Linked DNA regions of Homo sapiens. The protein of the gene in region 4 purifies or fractionates together with the protein of the main gene of each other region. This does not show direct contact. Each region holds a gene or a part of one and is shown on either strand. Other genes may lie near its edges.

Region 1 (3,500 bases), 630 kb from region 4:
CTCAAAAAATAAAATAAAATAAAACAAGGCATGACTCTGAAGGTGTTTTATCATACATAGTAGTTTGTCTCATTTTATCTATGAGCCAATCTTACAGAAAGATTTCTCAAAGAATGAAAACTCTGATTCTACCATTTTTACTATAAGCAGCTCATTGAAATTATTTTTTCAAATTATCAACACTTAATTTATCCTGAAATATTTTAATAGAAAATTTTGGAAGCCTCCTTTTATATATTCATAGGAATGAGTTCCATATATTGTTAGGATTGTGTAAAATTAAAAATGCCTGCATGGAAAGCGGCAGAGCAACAGACACGACGCAAACAGGCACAGTCTGAGCATCTGAACCACAAGTAAAAGGTGAGAGAAGTAAAAGATATTATTTTTAACCTGGTTATAAATCTCCCCAGGATGATTTATAGCCAGTAATGATAATGCATCTTTTATTGAAAAAGCTGATATAAAATCATCAATTTACTGTTGAGAGAAAAGAGGCCAAAGAAAACTCTTAAGAACCCTCACTGAGAAAACTTTATAAAACACTTTCCAGAAGCAGAACTAAGAAAAAAAAAAAATGGTGAAGAGGACTTCCTCTGGATAATTAAACCAAGGTCTCTTTATAAGACCAAAACAGAAATGGTGAATTTAAATAGTAACTGAATCTTAAGATTTCATTAAATCATACATTATCACTTTTTTTAAAGTGACCTAATACTTTAGTATGAGTTTTCGACACATCACCCCTTCTTACCATTAAATTTTTTAAGTTATTCTGAAATCTATAAATTTACTTATAGAATGTATTAAAAGCTAAGTATGTCAATATTTACAGAGCCTGCTAATAGGTATGAACTTTCAGAGAGATAAGAGGTCACCTGAAAATGCACCAACATTTCAGAAGCAAGCTTTCAAGTTAACAGTCAAAGCTTGGTTGGCATCACTGATAAATGCAAGTAAACAAGCTGGAATTTTTCTAAAGTGTAACAGCAGTGAATAAAATAGCAAGAACTATTTGCAAGATGGCATATAAATATGAAACAATATGCTGCGAATTTAGGACTTACAAAAATACTTCAGTGGTAAAGTGTCAAAAGAAAATTCTTTGATAAAGAGATTACATGCGAAAAGGGACTTTTTTTCTACCTTCCATTCATACTTCATGTATGTAAAGTTTACACTCAGATCTTACCTTCATGTATATAAAATTTACACTCTTACCTCCCTCCCATAACAAAAGTTAAATTATCTTAGAAATTAAGGCTTATATACCTGAATGTTTATATAAATACTTGCAGGCAAGTTTTAAGTTTTAAAATCCACAATAATTCCAAAAGGAAAAGCAACTAACAGATAAAACTTTTATCTCCTAATCAAGGTAAATAGAAAAAAAGAACTCTTAGATACTTCTAGATATTTTTTATATTTGGGTAGGACTTTGATCCTTGCTAAGGCAAAGCTATCTTAAAGCTACCAGACTAGCCAAAGTAAAATTAAATAGATAATTCACTAAATAAAATGGGTTAATTTTAGCTTCATTATTAAGAACATTAGACACGGCAGAGAATGCAAATTAACATTCTGAATAAAGACCTTAAATCAGGTTATTAATTGCTGCTAAGCCACATGAAATTAGACATCAATTAAACGCAGTAATATTTGTATCTTCCCTCTAATCCTTAATAAAGTTCTGTTCTTATGCAGAACTCTCAAAAACAAAACCCCTCAAATGACAATTACAAGAGTTGTGTAAAACATACATACATATGTAAACCTACAGTGAACCTGACCAAGGCACAAGTTCAAGTGACTTATCAGAGGTCACATGGTTCATTTAAACTTAGCTTTTTTCTTGAAGTATCTAGCGCATTCCTTTTATTATGAGCCACTCTGGCTTTTCAAGGCACGTTTGCCTCTTTTTCTAGAAAGAAGCTATAGGGACCAAAAAAAAAAAAAAAATAGAGCAAGTTGCAACAAAACTGTCAGCCTACTGGGTAAAAACCTCACATTTCAGAGTATGGTATATTTAAATATGACATGATTTTTCCACACTATGTGGCAACAGGATTCCCTATTGTAAATTTTTTTTGAGTGTAATGACATCATTTTCAGTTAGTCTTTAGTTCTGAAGTTTCTCCAAGTTCTGTAAACTTTTAAAAAAGGAATCCTTCTTGGCCGGGCACGGTGGCTCACGCCTGTAATCCCAGCACTTTGGGAGGCCAAGGCGGGCAGGCGGATCACAAGGTCAAGAGACCAAGACCATCCTGGCCAACATGGTGAAACCCCATCTCTACTAAAAATACAAAAAAATTAGCTGGGTATGGTGGCGTACACCTGTAGTCCCAGCTACTTGGGAGGCTGAGGCAGGAGAACTGCTTGAACCCGGCAGGCAGAGGTTGCAGTGAGCCAAGATCACACCACTGCACTCAAGCCTGGTGACAGAGCGAGACTCCAACTCAAAAAAAAAAAAAAAAAAAAAAAGAATCCTTCTCAAAAGAGTAAAGTATAAAAGAAATGTCAAGTTTCACCCGAAAACGGCACCTTTCATGAGGTTATCCTCCATCCCCTCCCCATCGTGTGTGCAAAACCATGGAATCAATCTTAAAAGGCACTAAGTGGCACATAAAGAACTTAAAAGCTGCATTTCCATTTTTCCTCTAGCTTCCTCCTCCATAAAGTGCACAAAGCAGAGTAATATGAAAATAGACACAGGCTTGCATCTATAACAGCAAGGAAAAGAAATGCTTCCAAGAGAAATGGAAGTGTGTTTAATAATTTGAAACCACAGGAGAGGTCTGCTCATTTATTACAGGGCCATGTTTTAGCTCTTCCTGGATCGTCTCAGATCTGCCATTCCTCTGGATATGAACCTGTGGCCGTGGCAGAAACCCAGAAATCAGTAGGGGCTTGTTGTGTTCTTGTTTGATCTTCACGTTAAGATGCTATTGAGCTTTTTTATCCATGGATGGTCTTCCAACAACTGCATCCCTCACAGTGGCCTGAGTGGAATTACCGATATGAGAAGAAGCCTGCAAAAGTCCATTTATTCAACATATAAGTTAATAAAATACAACACAGCAACAAGAAAGTAAGTCCTTAAACTTTCAAAAACCTGTCTCCATCATCGGCATGTTACAGAAAGCAGTTGAATGAAAATGCAGGGATACAGAGAGGCTGTGGCAGCAGCTAACTCCCAAGAGAGCCAGGGGAACATCTGCTCTGTGGCTAGGGTAGGATAGGCAGCTCCTGTGGCTTCACAAGCTGCTAACCCAACTCACCTGTTCATGTTACTCAGAAAAACAAATGTATCATCTCAAAGATCTACAAAACTTGTGACCATGTCAATGTCCAAGAGCTACTGGGTTAGTCAGGTGTGGTGGCACTCGCCTGTAACACCGGCTGCTTGGGAGGCTGAGGTGGGAGGATCACTTGAGCCCAGGAGTTTTAAGTTACAATGAGCTAAGATACCAGCCTGGGTGACAAAGCAAGACCTCGTCTCC
Region 2 (3,500 bases), on a different chromosome or scaffold from region 4:
AAATAGCAGCCCAGTTGACAGAAAGCCTGAACGTCTCAGTTTTCCTGTGTTGTTTGGTGCTTTACTGAAAATTTTGTTGTTATTGTTTGGATTTTCTAAAATTTCTGAAATGTTTTTTGATATTCTAAATTTAAAACTATGTATGTGGGGTTGTGATTTGAAGTAGGCAGTCCTTAGTAATAATAATGTTGTAGGAAGTACTAAGGGAGATTCAAGTGTTGAGCCTGCTGGTGCTTCAGGAGTGTACGTTAAGAGTTGTCAGAAACTTTCTCAGAGGTAAATGAATGCACACCATTGGAGGGCATAATAGAGTTTATTTGCTTTTCTATTTAACTGTGATACCCTGGTTTATTTGAAATCATTCCTGACACACCCAGAGAATTCAGAGCTCTAAATTAAGGGTTTGAGGAACTTACAGCAGAATTTAGAATTCTAATGACTTCACTAATTTTCCAGGGATCCCCAGAGGGAACCTGAAAAGCCATAATATCCTATGGGACTGAGTTCCCTTTGTCCACTGAAAGGGTAAGAACTCTGTCCAGATCCAGATGTAGAATCCCTTCTTTCTCTAGTTCAGAGGACATTTAGTTTAATTTTGTTAGAAGACATACTAGAAAACCGTCATGTGAAGTAAGAAAGCTTTATTTTTTTCCTCCCTATCGATTCTTTATTATGCTTATCACAGTTTTTAAAAAGTAATTATCTGCTAATTCCAACATCAGGTTAGATAAGTCTATTTGTATTGATGGATTTTTCTCTTGACTCTGGGTTACATTTTCCTGTTTTTACACACCTGGCCAGTTATTTCTTTGTTGCAGCATTGTTAATTATCATGTTGTAGAGATTATGAGCTCTGAATTTTGTCAGAAGGTTGTTGAGTTTTTGCCTAGCAGGCAGTCAAATTACTAAAGGATAAATTTGATCTTATTTCTAACTGTCATGTACAGTGATTCTTCTAGGGAGATAGGGATAGGGGAGAGGGAAAATGTAGTTTAAAAATCCTAGGCTAACTCCTGCTGAGGAAAATCACTGGTAAACTAGTGACTACTCTGCTAAATTGCCTCTCTTGACATTGTCAACCTGAAGCCATCAAAAGGATCAGAATACAGAGTTTATGCAAGTAGAAAGCTGGGAATGGCCAATCAGAGAACACAAACTTTAGAAAATGGGGTCAGTGTTCCCAAAAGCTTTATTTTCTTTTATGGACTTCTACTTCTTTGATGGAGATGTCACCAATTAAAAGGTAGCTGAAGAAAGACACAGGTAGGGAATTTTTAAAATAACTTTGCCAGAAAGATACAGATACAGAATTTTTAAAATAACTTTACCAAAACAGAAAAATAATATACTTTCCATATTGTACTAAGATTTGGCATTTTACTAGAAAAGGGCATAAGAATAGTGACTTTTCTAGTCAGGCTACCTGAAATATAGTACAAATAAACCAATCTTGAAGTGATCCCAAAACACCTCCTTCTAATCAGTCAAAGTAGATATTACAAAAGCTAAACATTAAAGCTCATGTACTACTATCATAGGGGCAGCTCTCAGGTTCCTTTTCAGAGTCCATTTAAGCTTAAGGGAGGGAAAAATGTATTAATAAGCTGTTATCTGTTTTCCTACTTCATAACAAAATGCCAGAAGGAACTGCTAAAGGTGTGCACAGTGGCCATCAAGAAGTATGTGACTGGGCCGGGCGCAGTGGCTCACGCCTGTAATCCCAGCACTTTGGGAGGCCGAGGTGGGCAGGTCACCTGAGGTTAGAAGTTTGAGACCAGCCTGGGCAACATGACAAAACCCCGTCTCTACTAAAGATACAAAAATTATCTGGGTGTGGTGGTGTGCACCTGTAATCCCAGCTACTTGGGAGGCTGAGGCAGAAGAATCGCTTGAACCCAGGAGGTGGAGGTTGCAGTGAGCCAAGATCACACCACTGCACTCCAGCCTGGGCGACAGAGCGAGACTCTGTCTCAAAAAAAAAAAAAAAAAAAAAAAAAAAGTATGTGACTGAGGAAGCAGAAGAAACAGATACCTGTTATAAACATCTGTACCTGAAATGGTAAAAAATGTAAAGTGTTTATACTTTTCTTATTTACCAGTTCACTGGAAAATACATTTTTATGGATTACCACCTCCTCTGATGCTGCCAGGTGAATGAGGAGTTAGCTACAGTAATAAGGTGGTAACACAGTTGATTGGTTATATCTAACACTATTTGTGTGGTACCAAAAGCACTTGTACATATGAAGCATAATATATTTTAAAATTATTTATTTTAACTGCATCTGAAATAGAAGGAAAAAAGGAGGTTTTTGAGCCCTAGCATTAATGAGCTAGGGCCTTCATAATTAAAAAAGTGACCTAGTGAGCTGTACCTATTAGGCATCAAATATTTTAATTTTTTTCCATGTGATAACAGACACTTTCATTTCTCCTTTTCTGTAATTTTTCTCCTGTTCCTTAATACTTCTTTTATTTTATTAAAGGAAATTCATCTCAAGGTAAAGGTTTACTTATTGGACTATGTTATAAGATAGCAAGATAATAGGGAAATGGTGTTTCCAGTAGAATTTTTGCTAAACAAAATTTACATGTCTCCAAGAAGAACTGGTTGTCTTCCTCTTGGAATTAAATGATCTGTAGGCTATTGGATTCCTTTTTTTTTTTTTTTTTTTTTACAAAGTGATCTGATCTATAATTTAGTAATACGGTCCAGAGTCCCTAAGATCTGTTTGTTCTTCAGTTTGTGTACTGCCAGCATTTCTGTAACACTGCCACTCAAGCCTCCAAGTCTCAGACAGCAGTGCCCTCTAGCAGTCTTTCATTTGGAGATTGTGTGGTGATTGAGATTACCCACTGGTGACCTCTCTAGGTCCTCTTGAGATATTTTATTTTAATTTAATTTTTACTTCTCTTACTGAACAAGCAAAGGGATTTTTAATGTTTGTTGGGTGTCAGGCTTTGACTTTGAGGGATCTATTAAAGCTGTTTACCTATGCTAAAGCATCATAAACTAAGGAAGTGGCCAGGTAATTGTCCGTACCATATTGTATATTCTTGCAAACTCTGTTTTGACCTACTAGTCACTGTTTCATCAGTTTTCATCTATTAAAAGAAACTGGGCCAGGCATGGTGGCTCACGCCTGTAATCCCAGCACTTTGGGAAGCCAAGGCGGGCAGATCACGAGGTCAGGAGATCAAGACCATCCTGGCTAACACAGTGAAACCCCGTCTCTACTAAAAATACAAAAAATCAGCTGGGTGTGGTGGCGGGCGCCTGTAGTCCCAGCTACTCGGGAGGCTGAGGCAGGAGAACAGCATGAACCCGGGGGGCGGAGCTTGCAGTGAGCCGAAATTGTGCCACTGCACTCCAGCCTGGGTGATAGAGCGGGACTCCGTCTCAAAAAAAAAAAAAAAAAAAATATATAGAAACTGATAAAACAAATTATTTATGTTTATAATGAGTCTGGCCTCATTGCAAAAACATTCATTTAATATTC
Region 3 (3,500 bases), on a different chromosome or scaffold from region 4:
ATCTCAGTTTTTCTTTGGAGATACGTGAGTATTCCCTTAAAAATCATTTTGGTATTTTGTGCACATATATTCAGTGAGCAGCTATTTAAAGCAAGTCCTCTTATCTCCCCAAAAGATGAGTTTTTTACTTAAAAAAAACAAGATTTAGGCCGGTGTGGTGGCTCATACCTGTAATCACAGCACTTTGGGAGGCCGAGTTGGGCAGATCACCCGAGGCCAGAAGTTCAAGACCAACCTGCCCAACATGGCGAAACCCCATCTCTACTAAAAATACAAAAAATTAGCTGCGTGTGGTGGTGGGCACCTGTAATCCCAGCTACTTGGGAGGCTGAGGCAGGAGAATCGCTTGAACCTGGGAGGTGGAGGTTGCAGTGAGCTGAGATCACGCCACTGCACTCCAGCCTGGGTGACAAGAGTGAAACTCCATGTCAAAAAACCAAAACAAACAAGAAAAAAATTTAATGGGCTTTTATTATAGGAAACTTTTTCTACCAGTGATAATCTAACATTGACTTAATAGGCTGCATATGTGAATTTAAAACATCTCAGACTGTTCCCACTCTGCCTCCAGTCTAACATTTGTGAGTAAAAATGAATCTATAAAGACAATTTCATTTTCTCCTAGAGTCTAAGCTACTCAATGAGTAAAACCTTGGTTGCATAATTTTTGTAAACTGAAATGGATAGTAAACCTTTTAAGAGACTATACTGTGTAATTCAGAATTGAGAATTTTGAAAAAAAAATTAAACACCATCCCAAGTTAGTATTTTCTTATGTGCTTAAAAAAATCCTTAATTTAATTTTTTTTTTTTTTTTTTTTTGAGATGGAGTCTTGCTCTTGTTGCCCAGGCTAGAGTGCAGTGGCATGATCTTGGCTCATTGCAACCTCCGCCTCCTGGGTTCAAGCAATTCTCCTGCCTCAACCTCCCAAGTAGCTGGGTTTACAGGTGCCCACCACCACGCCCGACTTCTTTTGTATTTTTAGTAGAGACAGGGTTTCACCATGTTGGCCAGGCTTATCTGGAACTCCTGACCTCAAGTGATCTGCCCCCGCTTGATCTCCCAAAGTACTGGGATTACAGGCATGAGCCACCACACCCGGCCTTCAGTTAATATTGTCTTATGTGCTTTAAAAATCCTTAATTTATTTCTAGGCCTTCTACCTTGGATGCCTATGTTTTTGGTTTTCTTGCACCTCTTTACAAAGTACGGTTTCCTAAAGTTCAGCTACAAGAACATCTGAAACAGCTCTCCAACCTCTGTCGCTTTTGTGATGACATCCTGAGCAGTTATTTTAGGCTTAGTCTTGGAGGTAAGCTGGCTCTTTTTCAGCTAATGTTTGTTTGCATATTCTCCTATGTATGTATAAGCAAAATCCACTACTTATTTTAATTTTAGAAGTTTGTGTATTGTCTTTAAATAGTGGTTTATAGCACTTCAAGGATTTGTGTTTTTCCGACTTCATTTTTATTCTCATGTTAGTTCTTATTTAAATAGATAAATAGATATTTGCCTTTTATCTATTCCGCTGGATTTTTACGTTTCTTCTTCTTGTTCTTTAAATATTACCCCTTTGAAGTGGGTCATTTTCTTCTAAAAGGTTAAAACCACAGGTATTAAGTCTTTGCTGAAAAACAGTATTTATCCTAATGCAAATGGACAATTACTTTAAATGATTTTTACCTGCTGCTTCTAGCATTTTCCTGCATGAACAGAAATCAGCAGCAGATTGATTTTGGTGAGGTACACTGCCATGATTCCACTACTTGAAAACTGATTGCATCAGAATGGAAGTATAGTAAATAGAGGGCACCTGTTACTTAGGATGTGCTTCATTGAGAGAGTGGAGCCTTGTGCTTAAGTGATTCAGATACTAAATTTCTATTGGGATGGTTGGCTGAAATTGTCCTTTTAAGAAACAGGTTATAAAGATAGCTGGCTTAGGTGGACAGTTTATTATTTTTTGGTGGGTTATGTATTCTGTATACAGGAAGGGGTTAGTAGTTTGGGAGTCATGAAATTAAGTAATGTTCAACCGTGTTAACTTGGGAGCAGTGGTTAGCAAACCTGATTATTTGACAGATAAAAAATCTTGGGTCCTATTCCAGACTTACTAAATTAGAATCTTTTAGGCATCAATCCTAGGAATTTGTATTTTTAAGTTCTTCTGAATACTTTGGATGTCTGGTGGGCAACTTTTTGGGAGTTACTGCCTTAGAAAACTATCCAGATAGTTGTGACCAAAGACCTATTTGAAATGGGTGTGAGAAAGGAATAGCTTAAACTTGAGAAGGAAATGAGGACTACTGTGCTTTTTTTTTCAAAAAAAAAAAAAAACTAATTATTGTGGCCAATTGCAGAACACTTGGTTAGCAGTGTCTACTTAGTGGATAAATTTTTGTCCGTTTTGCTCAGGGTTTAGTTTTAGAGCATTCGAATCCCTCTCTTCGCCTTTAAACCCAGAATGGTTTTCCTCTTTGCCTTTTTTGGGGAGGGTGGGGCACTGGACAGGGTGGGTAGACTCAAAATTCTTTCAATCTAAATAGCTTTAAAGGCTTTAAAAATTTCCTGTCTTTCTCTGATTTCTGTCCTGGCTTCTTAGGCATCTCTCCAGCTGGACAAGAAACGGTAGATGCAAATCTGCAGAAACTCACACAACTTGTAAATAAGGAATCCAACTTGATTGAAAAGGTCAAGTCTACTTCAATCATTTTATCATAGTTCAGTATTTTCCTTTCGGTAGCTAATATTGTCATTTGGGTCACACATTAACTGTACCCTTTTAGTTTTTTTTATAGAGTTTGTTTTTCAGAAAACTGTTTAAATATACTTTCACTAAAGTTGTATGTAACATAGTGTTTTGAAGCCAACAGTGGCCTGATTGGGGAAAGATCAGATAAGAGTATTGGGTTTACTTTTGCCACACAGTTAGTACCCTTTAAGCTAGGAAATCCAAAAGATTTGCTTTAAAAAAACAAAGCGGCCGGGCGCGGTGGGTCACTCCTGTAATCCCAGCTCTTTGGGAGGCCGAGGCGGGCAGATCATGAGGTCATGAGATCGAGACCATCCTGGCTTATACGGCGAAACCCCGTCTCTACTAAAAATACAAAAAATTAGCCGGGCATGGTGGCGGGCGCCTGTAGTCCCAGCTACTCAGGAGGCTGAGGCAGGAGAATGGCATGAACCCGGGAGGCGGAGCTTGCAGTGAGCTGAGATCGTGCCACTGCACTCCAGCCTGGGCAACGGAGCGAGACTCCATCAGAAAAAACACAAAAAAAAACAAAGCAAAAACACTTCTTGCTTGTGTGTCTGCCTCTCTGTCTCTTAATGTTTCTTAAGATTGTAAGCACTGGGCTTATCCTTTCTTATTAACAGCACCGTGTTCTTTTCTTCTTTCCACATGAAAGTTTTATTTTTTTCTCCTTCTTGTTCTTCTCTGCTCTAGATATAGTTTATAGTTTTTTCACCAGTGTAGATATTTTGCCACTTGGGGTGTTCT
Region 4 (3,500 bases):
CCAGCCTGGGCAGGTATGGGCTCCCCTGTTTGGCCCTGGGGCACCTAAGGAAACAGATGAAGAGGAGAGGGCCACATACCAGGATGATAGGAAGAAGACGAAGAAGGGAATGGACACAGTTAACTGCAGCCAACGCCACTGGGGGATGGCGTAGGCCAGGCCGGGCAGAATGAACTGGCCAAAGGTGTAGCAGTACCCGAGTGCTGTCGACATGATGGCCCGCATCCGGGTAGGCACCCATTCCACATCTGTGGGAGGAGTCCAAGCACCAGATTAGTGTTCTGCTAGGTCCCAGGCACCTCCGCGTGAAGGGGCACCAGCTTCTGCATCCCCACGGCTACTGACATCCTCCCCACGGATGCTGTTGATATCGCCCTCCGTTGGGTCTTCCTGCTGTTCTGATGCTGACCCTAAGTTCATCATCCCCATTTTACAGATGCCACAGCTGAGGCTCAAGGCGATAGGACTCAAACCTAGGTGTGTCTGTTTCCAAACTCATGCTCTTAACCACTGCTTCTCCAGTGGCAAGTGACTTTCCTTGTTCTGCCTCAGTTTCCTGATCTGTAAAATGGGAATAATAGTGTCACTTACTTGCAAGTGGTATTGAATGAGATTGTGTACCTAGCAGAGTGTCAGGTCCAGGGTAAGTCCTCAGTATTGACAGCTGCTATTACTATGCTTGTTGTCATTTTTAAATTTAAGTGAGGCCTCTGAGGTCCTGAGAGGGGGTGGCACCTTGACCAAGGTCACAGGGAGCCTGTGGTTGAGCCAGACCCAGACCCCATTCTCTTTTGGCTTCTGGATGGTGCTCCCCAAAGCCCAGCTCCATGCCCCACTGCAGCTCACTCAAGATGACGGTGCTCAGGGTAATGCCTGAGATGCCAAAGCCACACAGGAAGCGGAAGACCATGTAGATGGGGAAGGTGGGGCTGAAGGCTGCACCGGAGCCGCTGGCTGCCAGCAGCAGGTAGCTGCAGGTCAGGATGGGCCTGCGGCCAAACCTGTAGCTCGAAGGAGAGGAGGGGCCAGGTTAGCCACAGTGTGCCTGCCAAGAGGAGTGACTCTGCATGCTGTGGGGCAAAGGGCTGAATCCGACCCCCAACCTTTCCCTGTTGGGCACATAAAGCTCCCTCCCCAGACACAGCTTTCTTGGTAATTGCTATTTTTGACAAGTTTGCAATTAGAGGTTTGAGTTAATGAGTGATCTCCTCTACATCCGCCTCAGCTTAGCTGACTGAGCAGGGGTCAAAGGACCGCCCATCTCTAAGCAGTCCATCTCCTCTGCCTCCACTGCTACACAGCCACTACGCTGTGTCCCAAAACCTGGAGGTTTTTTCCCCTGGAAGAAGGGAAGGCTGGAGGCCAGACACGGTGGTTCATGCCTGTAATCCCGGCACTTTGGGAGGCCAAGATGGGAGGGTCACTTGAGGTCAGGAGTTTGAGACCAGCCTGACCAACATGGTGAAACCTCGTCTCTACTAAAAATACAAAAATTAGCCAGGCGTGGTGACACACGCCTGTAATCCCAGCTACTCGGGTGGCTGAGGCAGGAGAATCACTTGAATCCGGGAGGTGGAGGTTGCAGTGAGCTGAGATTGTGCCATCGCACTCCAGCCTGGGCAATAAGAGTGAGACTCCGTCTTAAGAGAAAAAAAAAAAAAAAAAAAAGGAAGGCTGGAAGATTCCAGTTGTAAGGGCTTTGGGGTGGAGAGAAGGCTGTGGTCCAGAAAGGTAGTGAGGTTTGCCCAAGGCCACACAGCAAGAGCCATCCCACCCTCCCCCAGCTCTTTGCCTCTTTGCGGGTGCACGGGTGGAGCAGAGTAGGGAAGGGTTGTCCCCATGGGTCATGCTTCCATGGGCTGTGCCCCCATGTCTCACCTGTCAGACAGGTCTCCAAGCACGAGCCCTCCAATCAGTATACCTGCCATGAAGATAGACTGGGCCATCTCCTTCAGTTTGTTGGAGTTGCACACCAAGTCCCACTGCACAAGAGAAAGGTAGGGCTAGCCTAACTCAGTGTAGACAGCCTGCTCAGCCATGCTCAGCCTGTGGCCTCATACATGTGGGCTTCCTCTCCCAGCGCCCTGACTTTGCCCCTACCTCCCAAGGACCGTTTCCTTTTTCAGCCCGGCTCGGAGCTCCTTGGGTTTGTCTGTGGCTCTTCGGCCCCTGACCTGCATCCCTCAGGCATGTGTGGCCTGTCATATGGCTCTCAAAGTCCACTCAGCTACCACATCCAGGTCTGGCCTCAACTGCTTCCTCCTCTCCAAGTTGCCTGCTTCCCTGTTTGCCTCCTCCCTGCCCCTCACATAGCCCAGGCCAGTCCCTCTGCGTACCCCCTTGACCTTGCCTTCTCTCCTCTACAGGGACGTTCCTCTATCCTTGCCACCTCTCTTCATCCTGCAGATCCAGTCTCTCTCTCTCTCTGCTCCTCCTCATCAGTATTTAGGTGTGTCCAAATCTCTCCATCTTAAAACCTCTTTCCTTTCCTCATTCACTCCATTTCTCTCTTCCCTTCAAAGCCAAATCCTTTGAACGAGGAGCTGTACTTGCTGTCACTCCATCCTCATCTCCTTTTCATGTCTCACTTCTGCCCCCAACCCATCCACTGAATCTGTGCTTATCAAGGTCACTGAAGTTTCATTTTTACGGCGCACAATGGAACGTCCCTAATCCTGGCCTGGCTTGCCCTCTGGCAGATGTGGATGCTGCTGATCTCGCCCTCCGTCAGGCTTCCTGCTGTTCTGCACTCCTCGTCTCCTTCACAGCTCGTTTCTCTCTGCCTAGTCCTTGAAGCTTTCCCAGGGCTCTTCCTGAATCCTCCTCTCTCTCCACTTTCCCCAGGCGATGCCATCTGTTCCTGCGGCTTCAATTCCTATTTTATACTGAAGATTCCAAATCTACAACTCCAGCCCAACCTATCTTCTGACCCACAGAGGAGTAGATTCAGTGGTCCCACTTGAGAACTCTGCCTGGATAGAGTCACAGGCACATCCCAGATTCAATGGGACTTATCACCCCACTTCTCATTAAAGTCCCAATCTCAGGGACTGGTAACCTTCTCTTTTTAATTAATTAATTAATTAAATTAATTTTTTTTTGAGACAGGGTCTCACTCTGTCACCCAGGCTGACTACAGTGGCATGATCATGGCTCAATGAAGCCTCAGTCTCCTGGGCTAAAGCCATCCTCCTAAGTAACTGGGACTACAGGTGTGCATGACCACACCTGGCTAATTTTGGATTTTGTATATAGACAGGAGCTCACTATGTTGCCCAGGCTGGTCTCTAACTCCTGGCCTCAAGTGATCTGCCTGTCTTGGCCTCCCAAAATACTGGAATTACAGATGTGAGTCACCACATCCAGCCTCTTTTTTATTTTTATTTAAAAAAAATTATATCATTTTTAATTGGCAAATCATAATTATATTACATATATGAAAACAATGTGGTGTTTTGATATATGTATGCAATGTGAAGTGATTAAATCAAGCTAATTAA

The links. Proteins that work in one complex are often made in the same cells at the same time.
Region 1: the proteins of SLC22A8 (region 4) and ATL3 purify together in Homo sapiens (affinity purification with mass spectrometry; one large-scale study listed by BioGRID and IntAct). This does not show direct contact.
Region 2: the proteins of SLC22A8 (region 4) and NDFIP1 purify together in Homo sapiens (affinity purification with mass spectrometry; one large-scale study listed by BioGRID and IntAct). This does not show direct contact.
Region 3: the proteins of SLC22A8 (region 4) and MTX3 purify together in Homo sapiens (affinity purification with mass spectrometry; one large-scale study listed by BioGRID and IntAct). This does not show direct contact.

The regions. Positions count from the first base shown.
Region 1 is NC_000011.10:63,626,377-63,629,876, forward strand, and holds part of ATL3 (atlastin-3), read right to left. Parts: intron 3,030-3,500; coding exon 2,943-3,029; 3' UTR 1-2,942. UniProt on the Homo sapiens protein: Atlastin-3 (ATL3) is a membrane-anchored GTPase that mediates the GTP-dependent fusion of endoplasmic reticulum (ER) membranes, maintaining the continuous ER network. It facilitates the formation of three-way junctions where ER tubules intersect.
Region 2 is NC_000005.10:142,146,779-142,150,278, forward strand, and holds part of NDFIP1 (NEDD4 family-interacting protein 1), read left to right. Parts: intron 1-3,500. UniProt on the Homo sapiens protein: Activates HECT domain-containing E3 ubiquitin-protein ligases, including NEDD4 and ITCH, and consequently modulates the stability of their targets. As a result, controls many cellular processes.
Region 3 is NC_000005.10:79,984,763-79,988,262, reverse strand, and holds part of MTX3 (metaxin-3), read left to right. Parts: coding exon 1-24; intron 25-1,155; coding exon 1,156-1,313; intron 1,314-2,603; coding exon 2,604-2,692; intron 2,693-3,500.
Region 4 is NC_000011.10:62,998,842-63,002,341, forward strand, and holds part of SLC22A8 (organic anion transporter 3), read right to left. Parts: intron 2,872-3,500; exon of another isoform or gene 2,206-2,871; coding exon of another isoform or gene 2,101-2,205; intron 1,983-2,100; coding exon 1,879-1,982; intron 1,002-1,878; coding exon 847-1,001; intron 249-846; coding exon 80-248; intron 1-79. UniProt on the Homo sapiens protein: Functions as an organic anion/dicarboxylate exchanger that couples organic anion uptake indirectly to the sodium gradient.